Linked DNA regions of Homo sapiens: regions 1 and 3 are each linked to region 2. Evidence: fine-mapped expression QTL. A gene starts in region 2. Each other region holds a variant in brackets. All regions are shown on one strand. Distances are between the middles of the regions.

Evidence for each region.
Region 1: its variant is fine-mapped to the expression of TMEM45B in whole blood (TOPMed, PIP 0.99).
Region 3: its variant is fine-mapped to the expression of TMEM45B in whole blood (TOPMed, PIP above 0.99).

What each region holds. Positions count from the first base shown.
Region 1 is chr11:129,857,166-129,862,165 of GRCh38, forward strand. TMEM45B (transmembrane protein 45B) reads left to right here. Exons shown (of 6, transcript NM_138788.5): 5 at 148-293; 6 at 1,409-2,838. The coding sequence ends at 1,520. Among named protein-coding and RNA genes, the nearest start is that of NFRKB, 36 kb to the right of the region's middle. RefSeq lists enhancers at 4,563-5,000, 4,669-4,963. The variant T/C (reference allele first, on the strand shown) is at 3,035.
Region 2 is chr11:129,810,504-129,821,690 of GRCh38, forward strand. TMEM45B (transmembrane protein 45B) reads left to right here and starts at 5,345. Exons shown (of 6, transcript NM_138788.5): 1 at 5,345-5,395. LOC124902793 (a long non-coding RNA gene) reads right to left here and starts at 4,184. Exons shown (of 2, transcript XR_007062952.1): 1 at 3,465-4,184.
Region 3 is chr11:129,850,578-129,855,659 of GRCh38, forward strand. TMEM45B (transmembrane protein 45B) reads left to right here. Exons shown (of 6, transcript NM_138788.5): 2 at 1,898-2,083; 3 at 4,033-4,239. The coding sequence starts at 1,906. Among named protein-coding and RNA genes, the nearest start is that of TMEM45B, 37 kb to the left of the region's middle. The variant A/G (reference allele first, on the strand shown) is at 2,634.

The sequences.
Region 1 (5,000 bases), 44 kb after region 2:
ATGTGAAAAGGCCTTTCTATGCTAACGAAGTGTGGGAACTATGAGGCGGTGGTCACACATGGGCCACTTCGGTGGCCACAGGAGAACGGCTAGATTGCTTCTCAGGACGACCAACCACAAGACCAACTTCTCTCTGTAATCCCCTAGATTGGGTTTGTGCTGTTCCCACCTTTTGGAACACCCGAATGGGACCAGAAGGATGATGCCAACCTCATGTTCATCACCATGTGCTTCTGCTGGCACTACCTGGCTGCCCTCAGCATTGTGGCCGTCAACTATTCTCTTGTTTACTGGTATGTCTGAGACTTCAGTGAAGCTTTTCCTCCTAACTCTAAGCAGGACTGATGTGATTAACTTGCACCATCTGATGAGTGCCGACTACAGGCCAAATTCTGTGCAAGGTACTCTCATGCAGGGAAGGTATCACTACCCTTATTTGCAAACAAGGGGAATGAGGCTTTTCAAAGTTTAATGACCTGAGGGCTTTTCAAAGTCATAGTAACCTGAGGGACCCAGGTTTCAAATGCAGGTCTCACAGATTTTAAGCCTATGGTGTGGTGGGGAATACTGAAATGGGAATCAGTACTGGATGGCAGTCCCCACGTAAAGGGTTCATTCTGGACCCATCATCTTATTTCCAGACCTGCCCTCCCTGCTTCCCAGAAATGATGTGACAGTCAAAAAATAAACCAGAGCAGAATGTTAAGACAAACTGCACTCCACCCCTCACTGAAGGCTCCTTAGAGGTATACAGATAACAGCTATGGACTCCTATGCACTTGCTGCGCCCCAGGCCCAGTGGAAAGCAGCTACACTCTATTATCCCATTTAATCTTCACTGCTTTATGAAGTATGCACTGTTATTTTTTACAGGTGGAGAAAACAAGGCTTCAAAAAGCTGAGTAACTTGACCAAGGTCACCCCACTAATAAATGGCAGAGCCTCTCAGTGCAAGGGTGAATTTTAGCAAATGGTATTACCAGTTCTATTTGCTGTTCGGCTGCCTCTACCTTTTCTTCTAGGTCATTTCTCTAGATCCCAAGCAGAATATTAGGTTGGTGCAAAAGTAACGGTGATTTTTGCCATTATTTCATCCAGAAAGAGTTCCACACGGACCAAAGAGAAGGGAGCTCAAGTCAGTTTCTTTTAGTTCTCCTGCCCAGCCACTGAAACAGTAAACCAAGATAGGCAAGACCTTGGCCTCAATTATGACATTCAGTAGTTTCCACCATCGCCCCTTTATCTACTGATGAATATTTCCTAAGAAGTCTAGTTTATAGACATGTAATCACAGTATTTGATAGAAATATAAAGAAAATAGTTTAAGAATCAGTAGATGCCTTCACATCCTTGGTAATGGATTAAGGGAATCTCTGGCTAATTGGCTCTTACTCTTTCTCTATTAAAGCCTTTTGACTCGGATGAAGAGACACGGAAGGGGAGAAATCATTGGAATTCAGAAGCTGAATTCAGATGACACTTACCAGACCGCCCTCTTGAGTGGCTCAGATGAGGAATGAGCCGAGATGCGGAGGGCGCAGATGTCCCACTGCACAGCTGGAATGAATGGAGTTCATCCCCTCCACCTGAATGCCTGCTGTGGTCTGATCTTAAGGGTCTATATATTTGCACCTCCTCATTCAACACAGGGCTGGAGGTTCTACAACAGGAAATCAGGCCTACAGCATCCTGTGTATCTTGCAGTTGGGATTTTTAAACATACTATAAAGTCTGTGTTGGTATAGTACCCTTCATAAGGAAAAATGAAGTAATGCCTATAAGTAGCAGGCCTTTGTGCCTCAGTGTCAAGAGAAATCAAGAGATGCTAAAAGCTTTACAATGGAAGTGGCCTCATGGATGAATCCGGGGTATGAGCCCAGGAGAACGTGCTGCTTTTGGTAACTTATCCCTTTTTCTCTTAAGAAAGCAGGTACTTTCTTATTAGAAATATGTTAGAATGTGTAAGCAAACGACAGTGCCTTTAGAATTACAATTCTAACTTACATATTTTTTGAAAGTAAAATAATTCACAAGCTTTGGTATTTTAAAATTATTGTTAAACATATCATAACTAATCATACCAGGGTACTGCAATACCACTGTTTATAAGTGACAAAATTAGGCCAAAGGTGATTTTTTTTTAAATCAGGAAGCTGGTTACTGGCTCTACTGAGAGTTGGAGCCCTGATGTTCTGATTCTTCAAAGTCACCCTAAAAGAAGATCTGACAGGAAAGCTGTATAATGAGATAGAAAAACGTCAGGTATGGAAGGCTTTCAGTTTTAATATGGCTGAAAGCAAAGGATAACGAATTCAGAATTAGTAATGTAAAATCTTGATACCCTAATCTTGCTTCTGGATCTGTTCTTTTTTTAAAAAAACTTCCTTCACCGCGCCTATAATCCTAGCACTTTGGGAGGCCGAGGCAGGCAGATCACGGGGTCAGGAGATCAAGACCATCCTGGCTAACATGGTGAAACCCCGTCTCTACTGAAAATACAAAAAATTAGCCGGGTGTGGTGGCGGGCGCCTGTAGTTCCAGCTACTCGGGAGGCTGAGGCAAGAGAATGGCATGAACCCGGTAGGGGAGCTTGCAGTGAGCCCAGATCATGCCACTGTACTCCAGCCTAGGTGACAGAGCAAGACTCTGTCTCAAAAACAAGCAAACAGACTTCCTTCAACAAATATTTATTAAATATCCACTTTGCAACAGCACTGAAATGGCTGTAAGGACTCCTGAGATATGTGTCCAGCAAGGAGTTTACAGTCAAACAGGAGAGACATGCCTGTAGTTACATCCAGTGTGATGGGTGCTGAGAGGCAAGTACAAACCACGATGAGAAAAAGGAGAGGAGGGGAAATGCAGAGCTTGCCCTGTAGAAAAAGCACATCCCAGGTAGAGAGGGTAGCACATTAAAAAATGAAAGCATAAAAAAATACGGAGAACTTAAAAAGATTAAGTTCTACAAACTGATAAAAGTGAGTTAGGACCAAGTTGATGGGCCTTAGAGACCAAATAATACTTTCCGTGTGCA[T/C]AGTATTTTTCAGATTCTGAGATGCACCCTATCTCATTTGATTCTCACAACCGCTTGTAATGTGTAAGAGCATGAGGTCTTTCAGAAAAGCTGGCTGGCCTAGCAGGGCGCGGTGGCTCACGCCTGTAATCCCAGCACTTTTGGAGGCCGAGGCGGGTGGATCATGAGGTCAAGAGATCGAGACCATCCTGGCCAACATGGTGAAACCCTGTCTCTACTAAAAATATAAAAATTAGCTTGGTGTGGTGGTGAGCACCTGTAGTCCCAGCTACTTGGGAGGCTGAGGCAGGAGAATCACTTGAACCCAGTAGGCGGAGGTTGCACAGTGAGCCGAGATTATGCCACTGCACTCCAATCTGGCAACAGAGTGAGACTCCATCTCAAAAAAAAAGAAAAGTTGGCTGGCCTAAGACCACACAGATGCTAGGTGGCAAAGCCAGTCTTATGACTCCAAAACCAGGCATCTGTCTCACCATTCTAACCCTGCTACGTCACACAAATCCAGGAGAGAGAATTTACATAAAGCACTGCATGCGCTTTGGAAGAAATGCTGTACTTAATTAAGTGAAGGTAACCTCCCAGAGTTAGCCAGCCTTTCAGAGTTGAAGTCACAGCTTAGGGATTCAAAATGAGCTACTAAAAACACTAATTTAGTTATTAGAGAACTCCGGGTTCCACTTTCAGGATCCACCTTGGTTGGCCAGTGGAAAAACACAAGTATTCTTCATTCAACAAGTACTGAAGGACCTATTATTGGCAATGAACGTAACATGTGTTCTTTCCTTGGGGACTGCAGGTGGGCAGAAGGACCTGTTCAGTTTTACTTTCAAAGAAAAGATCCACATTTGAGGTTTCTTTAAGTGTACCATATTTTAAGAAAGAAAATGTACTATTTTCTCCAGAGTGAGGGGCTAAGGTGTGAAGAACAGATATAAAATATTAAAATGTATTCAGATGCCCTTCACACAGCAAGGCTTGTGATGCCTTCATGGAAGTGATCAACCCTATCATAAACATTGTTAGATGTGGTATTAAAGTATAAACTGATGACAGTACTATTCTCCACATCCTGTCTTAGATATGTTTTCTGAATAATTTTACCCATATCTGTCAACCAGAGGCTCAATGGTTGCCACCAGAAGTCCTTTTGAAATTGTTCCCTACAAAACACCCACCATGGCTGGGTGCAGTGGCTCACGCCTGTAATCCCAGCACTTTGGGAGGCTGAGGCAGACAGATCACCTGAGGTGACAAGTTGGAGACCAGCCTAGCCAAAATGGTGAAACCCCATTTCTACCAAAAATACAAAAATTAGCAGGGCGTGGTGGCACGTGCCTGTGATTGATCCCAACTACTCAGGAGGCTGAGGCAGGAGAATCACTTGAACCCAGGAGGCGGAGGTTGCAGTGAGCTGAGATCTTGCCGCTGCACTCCAGCCTGGGCTACAGAGTGAGACTCCATCTCAAAAACAAAAACAAAAACAAAACACTCACCATAGCTGTGCCATTCATCTATCAGAAACCTGAAGCCAGCATATGAAGGAAGCAAGTGTGGCACAAATCCTGGGCTGTCACCGTAAACAGCTCCAGTAGGAAGTTCCCATTCTCCGCTATTGCCATTCCACCCACAGGCTGGATAGTGCCGAAGTTACACTTCTGAGGAGTCAGCATCCTGACGCAGCCTAAACTTTACACTCACTCCCTGCTCTCCAGAATGCACACGTCTGCCTGTGCAAAAACGACAAGCAGAGTCAGGTGACCTCAGCTAACAGGAATGTGGGCAGGGCTGCGGCTGAATGCCAGAGCTACTTTTATTAAATTCCTTGTTAAGTAAATTCAAAAGGGGTTTGTTTGTAGCTGGCAGTAAATACCTAAGACAAGATCTCTGGAATTTCTACCTTTTTTTTTTTTTAATTTAAAAACTGTCACATGGCTTTCTATGTGAAATGTGATTCTTGAAAATAACA
Region 2 (11,187 bases):
TATAATGTTTTATTTTATAATATATAATATGTTATTTCAGCATTGCTTTATGATTAAAACCCTCAGAAAAATTGGCATGGAAGGGACATACCTCAAGGTAATAAAAACTATCTATGACACACACACATATATATATATATAAAACCAAGCAGGTGAAAGACCTCTACAAGGAAAACTACAAAACACTGCTGAAAGAAATCACTGATGACACAAACAAATGGAAACACATCCCATGCTCATGGGTAGATTCAATATTGTGAAAGCTGTCAAAAGCAATCTACACATTCAGTGCAACTCCTATCAAAGTACCATCATCATTCTTCACAGAACTAGAAAAAAAAATCTAAAATTCATATGGAACCAAAAAGGACCCCTCATAACCAAAGCAAGACTAAGCAAAAAAAAAAAAAAAAAAAAAAAAAAAAACATCTGGAGGCATCGCATTAACTGACTTCAAACTATCCTACAAGATTTATACCAGTACCAAAACAGCATGGTACCAATATAAAAATAGGCACATAGACCAATGGAACAGAATACAGAACCCAGAAATAAAGCCAAATACTTACAACCAACTCATCTTCAACAAAGAAAGCAAAAACACAAATAGGGAAGGGGCACCCTATTCAACAAATGGTGCTGGGATAACTGTCTAGCCACATACAGAAGAATGAAACTGGATCCTCATCTCTTACCTTATACAGACATCAACTCAAGATGGATCAAACACTTAAATGTAAGACCTGAAACCATAAAAACTTTAGAAAATAACGCTGGAAAAACTCTTCTAGACATTGGCTTAGGCAAAGATTTTAAGACCAAAAACCCCAAAGCAAATCTAACAAAAACAAAAATAAATAGATATTACCTAATGAAAACACTTCGGCACAGCAAAATAATCAGCAGTGTAAACAGACACCTCACTGAATGGGAGAAAATATTCAACTATGCGTCCTACAAAGGACTAATATGCAGAATCTACAAGGAACTCAAATCAGTAAGAAAAAAAGAAATAATCCCATCAAAAAGTGGGCAAAGAACATGAATAGACAGTTCTCAAAAGAAGATACACAAATGACTAACACATGAAAAAGAATGCTCAACATCACTAATTATCAGGGAAATGCAGATTAAAACCACAATGAAATACCACCTTACTTCTGCAAGACTGGCCATAATTTACAAAGTCAAAAAATAGTAGATGTTTGCATAGATGTGATGAAAAGGGCACTTTTACACTGATGGTGGGAATATAAACTAGTACATCCACTGTGGAAAACTTTATGGAGATTCCTTAAAGAACTAAAAGTAAAACTACCATTTGATCCAGCAGTCCCACTATTGAGTATATATCCAGAAGAAAAGAAGTCATTATATGAAAAAGCCACTTGCATCTGCATGTTTATAGGAGCAAAATACACAATTGCAAAAATATGGAACCAGCCTAAATGCCCCTCGACTGACAAGTGGATAAAGAAAATGTGATATATTTACACCATGGAATACTACTCAGCCATAAAAAGGACTGAAGTAATGGCATTTGCAGCAATTTGTACGGGAGTTGGAGACCACTATTCCAAGTGAAGTAACTCAGGAATGGGAAACCAAATATCGTGTATGTTCTCACTTATAAGGGTTTGCTGAACTATGAGGATGCAAAGGCATAAGAATGATATAATGGGCCGGGTGCAGTGGCTCACAACTGTAATCCCAGCACTTTGGGAGGCCAAGGCAGGCGGATCATGAAGTCAGGAGATTGAGACCATCCTGGCTAACATGGTGAAACCCTGTCTCTACTAAAAATACAAAAAATTAGTCGTCGTGGCACGCGCCTGTAGTCCCAGCTACTCAGAGGTCTGAGGCAGGAGAATCGCTTGAACTTGGGAGGCAGAGGTTGCAGTGAGCTGAGATTGCGCCACTGCACTCTAGCCAGGGCGACAGAGCAAGACTGTCTCAAAAAAAAAAAAAAAATACATACATACATACATATATATATATATATATATATATATATATATATATAATGGACTTTGGGGACTCAAGGGAAAGTGGGAGGAGGGTGAGGGATAAAAGACTATACATTGGGTACAGTGTACACTGCTCAGGTGATGAGTACACAAAAATCTCAGAAATCACCACTAAATAACTTATCCATGTAACAAAAAAATGACCTGTTCCCCAAAAACTATTGCAATTTTTAAAAATGTAAACATTAGCCATGCGTGTTGATGCACACCTGTAGTCCCAGCTACTTAGGAAGCTGTGGCAAGAGTATCTCTTGAGCGTTGGAGGTCGAGGCTACAGTGAGCTATGATTGCACCACTGAACTTCATCCTGGGCAACAAAGTGAGCCCGTCTCAAACACACACACACACACACAACAAAAAATTGGTTTTGTCCTGGTACCTGGTTATTATAATTTGAAGCAGAAATTATTTTGTTTAGATTTTTTAATATTAAGAAGCATCTCCGTCGGGCGAGGTGGCTCACACCTCTAATCCCAGCACTTTAGGAGGCTGAGGTGGGCAGATCACCTGAGGTCGGGAGTTCAAGAACAGTCTGACAAACATGGAGAAACCCCGACTCTACTAAAAACACAAAATTAGCTGGGCATGGCGGCGCATGCCTGTGATCCCAGCTACTCAGGAGAGTGAGACACGAGAGTCACTTGAACCCAGGAGGCCAAGGTTGTGGTGAGCCGAGATCGCGCCATTGCACTCCAGCCTGGGCAACAAGAGCAAAACTGTCTCAAAAATAAAAAGTAAAAAAAAAAAAAGCATCTCTACTCACCATTAACTATACAATTAAGAGGTCACACCTTTGTTTCATCATCGTAGACAAGGTAAATATTACTAAAGAAAATGCCTGTCCATAAAAGGGATCTGGTGACAGAGGACAGCCTCTCCCAGAGTAACAGGCATCCAGGACTCCACTCTATCAACGATTTCTAAAACAATGGGTGTGAGCAAGGGCTAGGATGAGATGTGTGATTAAGTTCCTGAGCTGACGGCAAATTTAAAAGATGCCCTCTCAGCTCCTGGCTGCGGCCCATCCTCCCTGTAAGGTGCACGACTCCATGACGCTTTTCACTGACGGCACTACCTCTTGGCCATTACCACCTCCCACCAGATCCCATTCGCTCTGTTTTACCAGGGAAAGGTCTGCTCCAGTTAATGCCTTATCCTTCACAGTGATGTTCTTTGACTTTATAAAAACGGAGCCATTTGGTCAACAGGCTGCCCGTCGGATCCCGTGTCCTTCTGCACTGCTAATATCTAGCTGTGGCCCTGCTTTAAAACCCAAATGCAAACATCTCTTCCATGAAGCCCTTCCTGATTGCCAGTGCCCTCAACAGTGGAATAAGCTGCCAGGCATCTTAGAGATCTAGACCCGTGGTTCTCAACCCCCACTTCCCCAGGCCTCCTGAGAAGCTTTTAATAGGTGCATCAGCCCTGGATTCTTACCGGCAGGACTGAGAGGGAGCCTTAACGCTTGTGTTCTTCTAATAGTGTGCACAGGGTTGACGGGAAACACACACACACACAGTGCAGAACCATTCCACGAAGCTGTGTATCCGGAATTGGTTCCCTCTGAAGAGTTCCTGGTCCCGGTCCTGCCGCGGACCTTCACGGCATTATAGTTCTTAAACATGGTGTGTCCGGAGTTTGTTCCTTCAAATGTTCAGGTGTGTCCGAAGTTTTTTCTTTCTAGAGAGTTCGTGGTCTATGCACGACTTGATGAGTGAGGCCGCGGACCTTCGCAGGGAGTGTTACAGCTCTTAAAGGTGGCGCATCCGCGTTGTTCCTTCCTCCCAGCGGGTTCGTAGTTTCGCCGACCTCAGGAGTGAAGCCACAGACCTTCGCAGGGAGTGTTACACCTCTTAAAAGTGGTGCGTCTGGAGTTGTTTGCTCCTCCCTGTGGGTTCGTGGTGTCGCTGACTTCAGGAGTGAAGCCACAGACCTTCACAGTGAGTGTTATGGCTCTTAAAGGTGGCGGCTCCAGAGTTGTTTCTTGTGGTGGCTTCCTGGTCTCGCTGGTTTACAGGAGTGAACCTGCAGACCTTCACTGTGAGTGTTAAAGCTCATAAAGGTAGTGTGGACCTAAAAGGTGAGCAACAGCAAAATTTATTGCAAAGAGCGAAACAACAAAACCCCAACACCATCGAAGGGGACCCAAACGCAGCTGCCGCTGGCTCGGATGGCCAGCTTTTATTCCCTCATTGGCCCCGCCCACATCCTCCTGATTGGTCCTGCCCACATCCTCCTGATTGGTCCATTTTACAGAGCGCTGATTGGTCCATTTTACAGAGTGCTGATTGGTCCATTTTACAGAGTGCTGATTGGTCCGTTTTTACAGAGTGCTGATTGATGTGTTTACAAACCTTTAGCTAGACATAGAGCATTGATTGGTGCATTTACAATCCTTTGGCTAGAGAGAAAAGTTCTCCAAGTCCCCACCAATTAGCTGGACACAGAGCACTGATTGGTGCATTTTTACAGAGTGCTGATTGGTGTGTTTACAAACCTTTAGCTAGACACAGAGTGCAGATTGATGCTTTTACAATCCTTTAGCTAGACAGAAAAGTTCTCCAAGTCCCCATCCGACCCAGAAGCCCAGCGGGTTTCACCTCTCAGTAGCTTACAGAAGAGGACCCTGCTGCCACAGCACAATACCACAAAGAAAGTCATGCTCTCCTCAGCAGGTAGCCCCCTTCTCCGGGACAGGAACTTTGTTTCCTTCTTAGCTCTATCGCCAGCACCTAGAACAGTGCCCACCTGTCAGATCTGTTATCAGATGGGAACATGGCAGATTTGTTGAATGAATGAAGGAATGAATGAACTATGTGACACTCAAACTTAGCCACCAAACTTAAACTAAAAAAACTGGGTTGTGGTCCCTGATGGACCGTTGGCACCTTCTTCCTTTGCTGGACGGTGATCCGTGGCTGTTTCTGCGGTGTGTTCGCAGTGGTTGCCTGGCTTGGTAACAAACACTCTTCGGAGCCACAGCCTGTTCTCAGGGTCCTCGCCGCCTCCCAGGCCCTGCGATCTCTTTGCATCTCAGGAGGTCCAGGTTGGTTGCAGTCCTCTTGGGTGACTCAGGAACCAGCCTCTCCTGAAGCACACAGCTTAGGGAGTTCCTGAGGCCAGAGACATCTCCACGGGAAAGTCAAAGGCCTGGAGGAAGTGCGGACCTGACGACAGATGCCCCGCACGCTGGCCGGGACCGGGAAGGGCGGTCAAGGGTGGAAAGGGGCTGGCGGCTGCCAGGCCTGGCGGAGTGGAGCGGGGCGGGGCGCAGCGGGGCGGGGCGGGCCTGGAGCTGCACCTGCTTCTGGGCGGACGCACTTGGCGCGCGGCGCGGGCTGCAGACGGCTGCGAGGCGCTGGGCACAGGTCAGACGTCCGTACCCGCAGGGGGCTCGAACCTGGAGGAGGGCTCGAAGGGAGAGGGGGCCCCGCCAAGGAGCGGGGCTGTGATGGAGAGGAGGTTCCGACTCGCAGGGGACCTGCGGGGGAGGGGACGCGGACAGGGAGGGGCTCTGGGACAGGGGTGAAGGCTGCGCTAGGGGAGGACGGGAGGGGATGGAGGGCCCTGGTGTCGCGGAAGCCCAGCTGGGGCCCCCTCCGGGCTGCGGAACCGGTGCGCACACTACTCCCACCGCCCCCGAGTGCCTCTGTCCGGCTGGCCGCGGCCCTGGAACGAATATTGCTCAGTCCCCCGCGAGTCAGGTCTGCCGCGTTGCCCGGTGAGGGGAAGGTGTGAAGCCCCGGGCCTCCGTCTGCCCGGTGAGTCCGGGGACGCGCGCCCCCGGGGATGCCATCTGGCTCCTGGGCTGTGACCAGTCACAGCTCACATAGCTCTGGGCACTGGTACCGACTGCCTTTCCTTGTTAGCTGCGATACACAAATACACGAGCCAGATCCTTTCCTGAGGCCAGGAAGCCTGGAATCTAATAACACCGGGCGGTGGATAAAGTCCCCCGAGCCAGTGCTTAGCTTCCGTTAATGGAGCCATGGATGGAAGCGGATGTCAGGCGCAGTGGGGGAGAAATTTGCGGGGGTGGCCCTGTCTAGGGCCAGAGAAACAACCTCTGAAGCTTTGATCCAGCCCTAGAGGGAAGAAAGATGTGAGTTTCAGCCAGGGAAACGTAGCACTTTAAGAAATAGAAACCCTTTCAAAATTTGAGGGCAGGTAGCTCTCCTAAAAGTTGCAGAAATGGCCACTTCTTTTTTTTTTTTTTTTTTTTTTTGAGACGGAGTCTCGCTCTGTCGCCCAGGCTGGAGTGCAGTGGCGCAATCTCGGATCACTGCAAGCTCCACCTCCCGGGTTCACACCATTCTCCTGCCTCAGCCTCCCGAGTAGCTAGGACTACTGGCGCCCGCCACCACGCCCGGCTAATTTTTTGTATTTTTTTTTTTTTTGGTAGAGACGGGGTTTCACCGTGTTAGCCAGGATGGTCTCGATCTCCTGACCTCATGATCCACCCGCCTCAGCCTCCCAAAGTGCTGGGATTACAGGCGTGAACCACCGCGCCCAGCTAGAAATGGCCACTTCTTTCACGTTCTCTTCGACCGCTTTCTGCGGTGTCTGCCCTTTTCCTCCTCCTGCACCTTTTTGTCTCCTAGGGTCGCATAGCCTTCCAAACAGGCCTGCCTACAGCATTTTACCTGCAATTTTACACTCATTTTAATAGAAAGGATGGCTTATTGTTCATGAGAGACGTGTACTGTTTTTAACCAGATGTGTAATATCTTCAGTATAACCTGGATGTTGTGCAGTGGGAAGTTATGGAAAGAATCAGGACACGTGGTTAGGTAGGGGCCCAGGGGCGTCAGACTTAGCTCTTTGTGACAGTGAGCTTCTTGGTTTAATAAGGATATTGGCTCCCTCTGTTCCTGGGGTTTCTGGGAAAAGATATGGAACTGATATGAAGGTTTTATTGAATATGGCCCACTGATTTTACAAGTGGAGGTGACTGAGATAAGCAGAAGGTGAGGCATGACCTCTGGCTGTGCATTATTTGTTCTGATATTACAGGAGCCAAGCATTCCATTTCCTTCTTTTTAAAGAGCTTTGATTTCCTCTCACATCTTCATGAAGATGGAAACAGTGCCCCCACTTACTTATCCTCAGGCCACACCTGTTCCCATTTATTCCATGAGTTCCTCCCACACCCTTCTGGTTGATGTTGGTTGTGATGGTCGAGGTAATTGAATCTCACATTTGGCACCAGTTATTTCTGTTTCTCATCTCCCCCCTACCTGCAGTTAAACATCAGCTGCTATACTTAACTGTTCAAAGTACAGATGTTACCTGTGTTGGGTGTAATCAAAAGATTATCTCTTTTCCTCAAATGAAAAATGGGTGAGGACAGTTTCACCACACATAGAGTCACTCCCCTAGCCAAAGTCCTTGCTATTGCAAAACTTTTTACTGTAAGAGAATTAAAGTCACTAGTGTGTCATCAACTAATGGTACTTATAGACACATTCCATATTTGTTTCTATAGAAAGATCATAAGACAAACACTAGATTATTCCCAGTATGAGACCATACTGAATATGAACAATTAGAGGCCACAGGTGAGTGCTGTCCTCCTCACACTTTCTTTGAACTCTTAAGCTTCTACTCTTTTAACCAGCTACCCCTCTCCCCAAAACCTTCACTGAGGCTAGAAACAAACACAAATAGACTATTTGAATTTTAGCAAATTTTATCTCTCTTTTCTATTCTCTTGTGTAAAACTTAAATGGCCACAAGCTACACTACTGGAGGAAAAAGGAAAGCTAAAAGGTCTATCAGCCTTCTGTATGTGATGCAGAGTTCAACTGAATATAGCAAGGTACACACCCGCATTCTCCTTGCCAGGACTTAGATATCATAAGCCATTATCTTGCTGGTTGTTGAAATCATAATGGGGCTTTATAGAGCACAAGGCGATGTTTGTAAACAGCACTGTTCAGGTCAGATTAGAATCCGTATTTCAAAAATGAGGAGATGGAAACAGAGATATTGTGTATGTGGTCCAGGGTTAGCCAGTAATTAAATGGCAGAGCCAGAACTCAAACCAACATTCCTTCCAGAATACCACAGCTGCCTCTGGAGTGGTTTTTGTTGTTCTTGTTGAATTTTGTGATGGAAGATTGTGATTTGTTTTTCCCGAACACTTAATATGTTTTCTGACTTGAATTATCAGAATCTAAATTTAGAAACTCTCTCGTTTGGTATATTTCATGCCCATCTTTGTTCCATATAATTACAAAAATATCTTAGAGCTGAGTATAACCTTAAAGATTGTCAAGTCCAATCTTGTGGTTTTTCAAGGAAGAAAACCGGATTTAAGAAAAATAAAGCAAGTACCTCATGTTGCTTCCCCAAATCTACTTCATTGGAGAATTACAGCTAAAAACAATGTTCAGATTTTTGCTCCTTCTGTCATGTGGTCCCTTGAGAATTTGCCAAATGTATAAATCCAGTGACTTATTTTGATGTACTCTTTTGGTTTGAGGTCTGTGACAGCAAACATAACCTCCTTGAATCCCAGCCTCAAATGCCTATGGACCTTCTGTTCTAACTGTTATTATAACTGTAGCCGTTATTATAGTGGCTAAAGTTCTAACTTCTGTTCTAACTGTGCTCCTGGTTCCATGACAAAGAGAGCTTTACTTGTCTTATTCCTAGCACAGTGCCCATAGCAGGCATACATAAAATGTGGTATGTCAGATAAACATCTGAAAAAGTGTGAGATGTCATTAGACGTTCATTCAGCTACAAGAACAGAAAACCCTACTACAGCGGCTTAAACAAGTAAGGAGTTTGTTTTTCTCAGAGAACGAGAAGTCTGGAGGTGAGAAGGCTGGGGCTGGGAAAGGGGTTCCGATATGAACGTCATCTGAGACAGGCTCCTTGTGTCTTCCCGCACCACCCTCCTTAGCATGGAGCTTTCATACTCACTTCCGCAAGTTGCAGCAGAAAGACGGGCAGAGGCATGCTCCAGAAGAGTCTTGTCTTGTCTTTTCTTTTCTTTTCTTTTCTCTCTTCTTTTCTTTTCTCTCTCTCTCTCTCTGTCTCATCTCTTTCTTTCTTTTGACTCAGAGTCTCTCTCAGTGGCACAATCTCGGCTCACTGCAACCTCCGCTTCCTGGGTTCAAGTGATTCTCCTGCCTCAGCCTCCAAGTAGCTGGGATTACAGACGTGCACCACCACGCCCAGCTAATTTTTGTATTTTTAGTAGAGACGGGGTTTCACCATGTTGGTCAGGCTGGTCTTGAACTCCTGACCCTGTGATCTGCCCCCCTCGGCCTCCCAAAGTGCTGGGATTACAGATGTGAGCCACCACGCCTGGCCTGTCCTTCTTTATAATAAATAATAATAATAACAGCTTTTCTGGTAGCCCACCCCAAAAGACTTCTTACATGTCATTGGCCAGAACCATATCACATACACACTGTTAACGGTGACGGAACCAGAGAGAATCTAGTGTTTGAGACAGACACGTTGCCAATACATCAAAATAAGAATTTTGGGCCAGACACAGTGGCTCACGCCTGTAATTCCAGCATTTTGGGAGGTCAAGGCGGGTGGATCACCTGAGGTCAGGAGTTCAAGACCAGCCTGGCCAACATGGTGAAACCCCATCTCTACTAAAAACACAAAAAATCAGCCGGGCGTGCTAGCAGGCGCCTATAGTCCCAGCTACTCAGGAGGCTGAGGCAGGAGAATCGCTTGAACCCAGGAGGCAGAGGTTGCAGTGAGCCGAGATCATGCCACTTGCACTCCAGCCTGGACAACAAGAGCGAAACTCCATCTCAAAAAAATAATAATAACAACAAAATAGGAATTTTGTTAATAAGGCGGGGGGAGAATGAACATTGGGTAGGCAGCTAGCAGCATCTGCCATAGTGTGTTTTATGAGTCATAGATCCTGTCTCTAAATAGGTTGTTATTTGTTTTGGTTTTTTGTTTGTTTTACTAAAAAGCAATGGGTAATGCAGTGGGTCCAGGGGAACTTTTTTAAATGGTAGAGTGCAAGGACCACTCTGAGAACTGCTGATTATGTAGGTCTGGGCTGGGTCTATAATTCTCCATTATGGACGGGCACGCCAGGTCATCTGAGGGCAGGTGGTTGCGGGAATACATTTTGAGAAACACCGAATGTCAGGTAGTTTAGCAAAAGCGACTTTATTTTATTTCTGTTAGCTTTTTGCCTCACTCCTCTTGAGGGTATACTTTATTTTTTAATTATCTGCTTTGGTCAACATAAATCAATGTATAGTCTTAGAAGTCGTTCATTGTAGAAGGTTTTCATTGAGTTTATACTGAGTATAGAACCCTAGCGGCAATTACTTTCAATGCTTTGGGTTGTGTTTTTCTGATATTACCATATTCTAAATAGCATGCAGATACGGGCCATTTCTTCTTCTCTTTTCCAGTTCTGGATGACATCTATTGACATCCTACCAAGAAGGATGAGGGTTTCGCTCCTTTACACCCCCACCCTCCCTCTCACCTTCACATCCCTTTCTTTTAAGTTCCCAGTACGGTTATATCCTAAATTTTTGATATGTCAATGTTTGGTGTATATATTATTCCCAACTAAGGCACATGATACACCATGATCTTTACATTTCCCTTCTTGACCAGTCTTTCCCCCAACCCCCTGGAATGGGGTGTAGGAGTTGCTACATTTTCTTTAGTTGTTTGAGAACTCATCACCAAGAAGTCATTTCCTGGAGCCAAGGAAACTCATGGGGGCCCTCTGAGTGCTGCTAATTGCATGGAGCTGTTGAGTGGGGAGGAAACGCCAGGCCGCCATCAAGAAGCATTTGGGGTAAATTTTCCAAGCACATCTGAAAAGACAGAGTCTAGAACCTCCACGGTCCCTGTCTGTTGTGATTTATTTTCTCATTCTAAATACACACACACTTTTTTTTTCTGTCTAGGCCATCTCTTGTGGAATACATATGTACTTTCATACCCAATTATGTACAGTTTTTGTAATTTTACGCCTTTTTCTTAAAGAAGGCTCCCAAAAGTGTATAAGATTCAGGCCCCATAAGATGCGGTTGCTTTTTGAGCTTGTGCCCATTTGAGATGTCACTTTTCTTCCTTCACACTTGCTTGCTGGTTTGGCTGGGTATGGGATATTAATCAGAAATCATTTCCCGTACGAATTTTGAAAACA
Region 3 (5,082 bases), 37 kb after region 2:
GAAGTCCTAGGAAACGACATAATTCAGGTAAGTTCTTTACCACTTTCTAACAAGGATAACCTTTCTTCTAGTTTCCAATACCTTGTTCTTTATTTCTGTCTGAGACCTCATCAGAATTGCCTTCACCATCGGTATCTCTATCAACATTCTGTTCATGACCACTTAGGCAATCTCTAAGAACGAGGCTTTCCCCACAGCTCATATCCCACATCTACAGCTCTCCTCTTCTTCTGAGCCCTCACCAGAATCATCCTTAGTGCTCCGTTCATGGCAATCCAGGCTTTTTTCAGCACTCACTTCAAAGCTGTTCCAGCTTGTATTCATTATCCAGTTCCAAAGCCACCCCCACATTTTTACATATTTGTTATAACCCCTGGTTATAAATGTTATAAACTCCTCTGGTACCAATTTCTGTCTTAGTCCCTGTTGTGCTGATATCACACAATACGCAGACTGGGTAATTTATAAAGAACAACAATTTATTTCTCACTGTTCTGAAAGCTGGGAAGTCCAAGATCAAGGCAGCAGCATCTGGTGTCTGCTGAGGGCTGCATCCTCACATGCAGGAGGACAAACAGGGGACCAGCTCCCTCCAGCCAACCCCTGTATGAGGGAGGGCATCTGCTCCTAGTTCAGGAGGGAGGGGCCCTCATGGCCTAGTCCCTTCTTAAAAGTCCTCTTCTCGGCCGGGTGTGGTGGCTCACACCTGTAATCCCAGCACTTTGGGAGGCCGAGGTGGGCAGATCACCTAAGGTCAGGAGTTCGAGAAAAGCCTGGCCAACATGGTGAAACCCCGTCTCTACTAAAAATATAAAAATTAGCCAGGCGTGGTGGCGGGTGCCTGTAATTCCAGCTACTCGGGAGGCTGAGGCAGGAGAATCGCTTGAACCTGGGAGGCAGAGGTTGTAGTGAGCCAAGATCGTGCCACTGCACTCCAGCCTGGGTGACAGAGTGAAACTCTGCCTCAAAAAAAAAAAAAAAGTCCCCTTCTCTTAATGCTATCACCTTGGCAACACCTGGATTTTGGAGGGGACACATTCAAACCACAGCAATCACCAACAACTGGTATTTTTCTCCCACCCTACATATTCTTTAGGTAACCACCCAGGCCAGTGGGGAAAATAATCAATCTACTTCTGAATAAATCCTAGCTATAGTTTCATGCTACTGCAAATGGGATAACAGCAAATCATGCCTGAAAATTTTTGGAATAAGGTGATGTTTACATCGTTATGCTGATTTTTACAAACTGTGAATCATATTGACCAGGTTCATTTGTACTAGACCACCACACCAAAACTTTATAAAATTATTTTCCAGTTGGGTGAAAAATGATGTTGTGCTTTCGTTTGCCCATCTCTAATTTCCGGGAGATTTATAATTTGTTTGTATTATTTTGTGAATCATCCGTTCATGTCTTCTGCCTATTCTTCTACGGTCTTTTTCTTATCAATTTGTAAAGACTCTAATGTAATAGCCAACTGCTACAAGCATGTTTCTGATTTGTTGTTTACCTTTTGATGTTCTTGATATTAAAAGATGCTTATATAGCTGAACGTTTTTCTTTTCTAGTTCCCCCCTTTATGTTTATGGCTTGGAAGTTTTCTCTATCTGAGATCAATAAATATTACCTATCCTCCTCTTTCCCCACCCTCATCCTTTTATTTTACCCACATGTTTAAAGCATTACAGACAGTGGAGTCCAGTTGGTTATGCAACTCACTTTACAGATGAGACTTCAGTGACGTAACATAAGGCTTGTTTTATGAGAATGTGTTGATCCTTCTTAACGTGGCTTATGATTTGCAATCTCAGGCACGTATTGTGTTTCCTGCCAAAATATACATTTGTTTGCTTGCTTCATTAGCCACCTAACAGCCTTCCCCTAATTTTTTAGGTGTCCTGATGGCAAATTTCAAGGGCCACGCGCTTCCAGGGAGTTTCTTCCTGATCATTGGGCTGTGTTGGTCAGTGAAGTACCCGCTGAAGTACTTTAGCCACACGCGGAAGAACAGCCCACTACATTACTATCAGCGTCTCGAGATCGTCGAAGCCGCAATTAGGACTTTGTTTTCCGTCACTGGTAAGAGCAGGGGTCATTTGGTCTAGGGAATCTCCTCATCATACCCAGAACCTTTAATTCATTTTCTGAGCCCTGTGAAATAGATGTTCCCACTGGCAGAGATAATAGGGCAACAATTTCCTGATGGCCACTAGACTATTTTATCGTAACATCCATTGTGTACAGAGCTTTATAATACTAACGGTTGACAGCTCTCACATCATGGGACACTGTGAAAAACTCAAATCAACAAGGACACAGGTATGGAAAGTTGTAGGAGCAAAACACCCACTGTATGAAAAAGATATGACACAAATAAAAAGAGAAAAAAACAAAATAGATTAGGCTCACGTACCTTAGTTGTGACAAAGTAGAAAAATCACCTTTTTTCCTCAATTGTCTCTCCCTCCAGATCCTTACAGTAGTTAACACCCAACCCACTGGCTTATCTTCATCCTCAAGTCTCAAGCGCTTATAGAGAGTTTATGTAGATTCGTAAATTAGCCAGTGGGAGAGAAAAAGCAGCAGAGGGCTGTTGAAGAGGAATTTTCCTTCACTCTGCCCCATTCCA[A/G]CAAGATCCACCCACTCCCACTGTTTCCTTCGCATCCACTCCGCTCCACTGCGGCCCTCCAGGAACAAGCAGTGATGACAGTAACAAGTGTTCTTCCTCAGGACCAGCCCCACCTGGGGGGAATGAGGGGTCTTAATCTGCAACTGACAATTACCACTTGTCATCAGTGGCCTATGGCTTCTTGGAGAGAGTGAAGCAACATCGCTTCTCTTGGAGGAAGCAAAGCTTCACAGGGCTTTGTTGGTCTCATCCTGCTGAATGTCCCCACTCACCATTCAGGCATCAGAGAGGCCTCCCGTGAGAAGTGACAGGGACCTGTGGCTTAAAGGATCAGGACAGCATCAACCTTGCCTAAATAAAGCTAGGACAATTACAATATTTGGCCCCTTGACTGGGTGAAAATGGTACTCATTCAACAGCTCTCTGGCACTCCTACCACAAGCCAGGAAGTCACTGTTCCAGGCATAGGAGATACACTGGGGAACCACACAGCCGCTGCTGTCACAGGGCTTCCATTCTAGTGTCACTGGGACTTTTCCTGGGTCATTTCCACAACTTCCTGACTCTGTGTGTGGGAATTCAAAAAGGGTCTGGCTTGAGAAACAAGTATCTGGGAAACGGAGTCCAAAATGTCATCATGGAGGATTTCTTCTAGGCTTCCCCAAGAACACTTTGGGTACCAGGCATAAAGACAAATCTTTTGCCTTCCAAATTAGCTGATAAAAGTAGAAGGGATAAGAACTAAGAGCTATCCTGTGTCGCAGTTTCGTCATTTTCTGGCCCACATCCTGGGGCCTCTGCCTTGTTTACCCGGTGTTTTAAAACACACAGCTGGGAGGGGCGCAGGGCTTGCAGAGCTGGCTCTGTGCCCAGGAAGGACACGCACTCAAAATCAGCCCTGCAGACACGCACCTGGGAGCCGCTTCCCTCCCTTGGCACGTACAGGTATCTTCATTACCAGTGTGTCTCTGCTCAGATTCTGCTTTCAGCCTAATTGTTTCTGTCTGGGATTTCTTTCACTGCTCACTTGGCAGGGAAGCCCAGAGATTATTCTATCAGCCACACTCCGACTTAAGTGATGATGTCTTGCTCATCTCTGCTCCTGGACAAACCTCCTGGGGATCTATGTGTGTGTGGTTGTGTTCATTGATTCTTCTACCCTCAACCCCAAACCCCTAAAAGGAACAACAATGGCAAGATGTCTACACAGGTGACTCAGCACACACCCTACTTTATACTGAAGCAGCTGCACCTGAGGCAGCAAAGTAGCTCTGCTGACCCGCGGGCCACCCTCACCTCACCCCATCTCCGCTTCGCTCATGCCTTTGGGTTATTCCTTGCTCCTATTTGTCTTAGAGCTACTCTTCCCTCTAAAACATCCATCCTCATTTCCCTGCAGGGATCCTGGCAGAGCAGTTTGTTCCGGATGGGCCCCACCTGCACCTCTACCATGAGAACCACTGGATAAAGTTAATGAATTGGCAGCACAGCACCATGTACCTATTCTTTGCAGTCTCAGGAATTGTTGACATGCTCACCTATCTGGTCAGCCACGTTCCCTTGGGGGTGGACAGACTGGTTATGGCTGTGGCAGTATTCATGGAAGGTAATTTTGTGGAACGGATGGAGAGGAAGGAGAGCCTGACAAGTCATATTTATGAAGGATCAGAGTACAAAATATCAGAAATGTTGCAAATATAATAACCTCCCCCAGAAAATCCACATCTCTGGACTGCCAAAACCTGAATAGGACCTAGTGCTCTACTCTGGATGGGCCAGGTGACATATTCCCTAAAGTAGCTCATGAAAGCTTTGAGGCTTGAAGGCAGCTACCAAAGCCCCGGCTAACACTGCAGGAGTCCTCCTCGCCTTCCCACTGCCGCCAGCAGCCCCTGCTCACACACGTGCATATTCCTCGGTGTGGACGTATGTGCGCACATACACATGCGGGTACACACAATGCCCCAGCTGGTTGAATGCCACCATGCAGGGGATACACCCCTTTGGTTAAGCGAAACCACACTCTACCTTTTGCCCAGGGAGGTACCGTCTTGCCTCCATCACAAGCCTCAGGAGACCCACTCCACTGCCAGGGGAGCGCTGCCAGTATGACTCACACTGACTGGGGTATGAAAATACATTTTGTCATCTAACAACCTCACTTCTGTACCTCAGCAAGAGTCGAAAAAGGTTGAGGGCAAAACTGAATTTCAAGTATACACACACAGTCTGTTACAAATCAGCAACATGCTTCAGCCGGCCCATCCTATACTGACCCCACCATGGGTTCCATAGAGATTTTAAGATACAATCCCTTGCTGCTTTATACTCCTAACATACTCATGAAATACACTTACTCGCATCTGTTTGCTGCCTGTAATGTTATGTACTAACTGCCTAAATGCTGAAGAACCTAGCTGAGACAGGTGTAGGAGGAAACTTCGGTGAT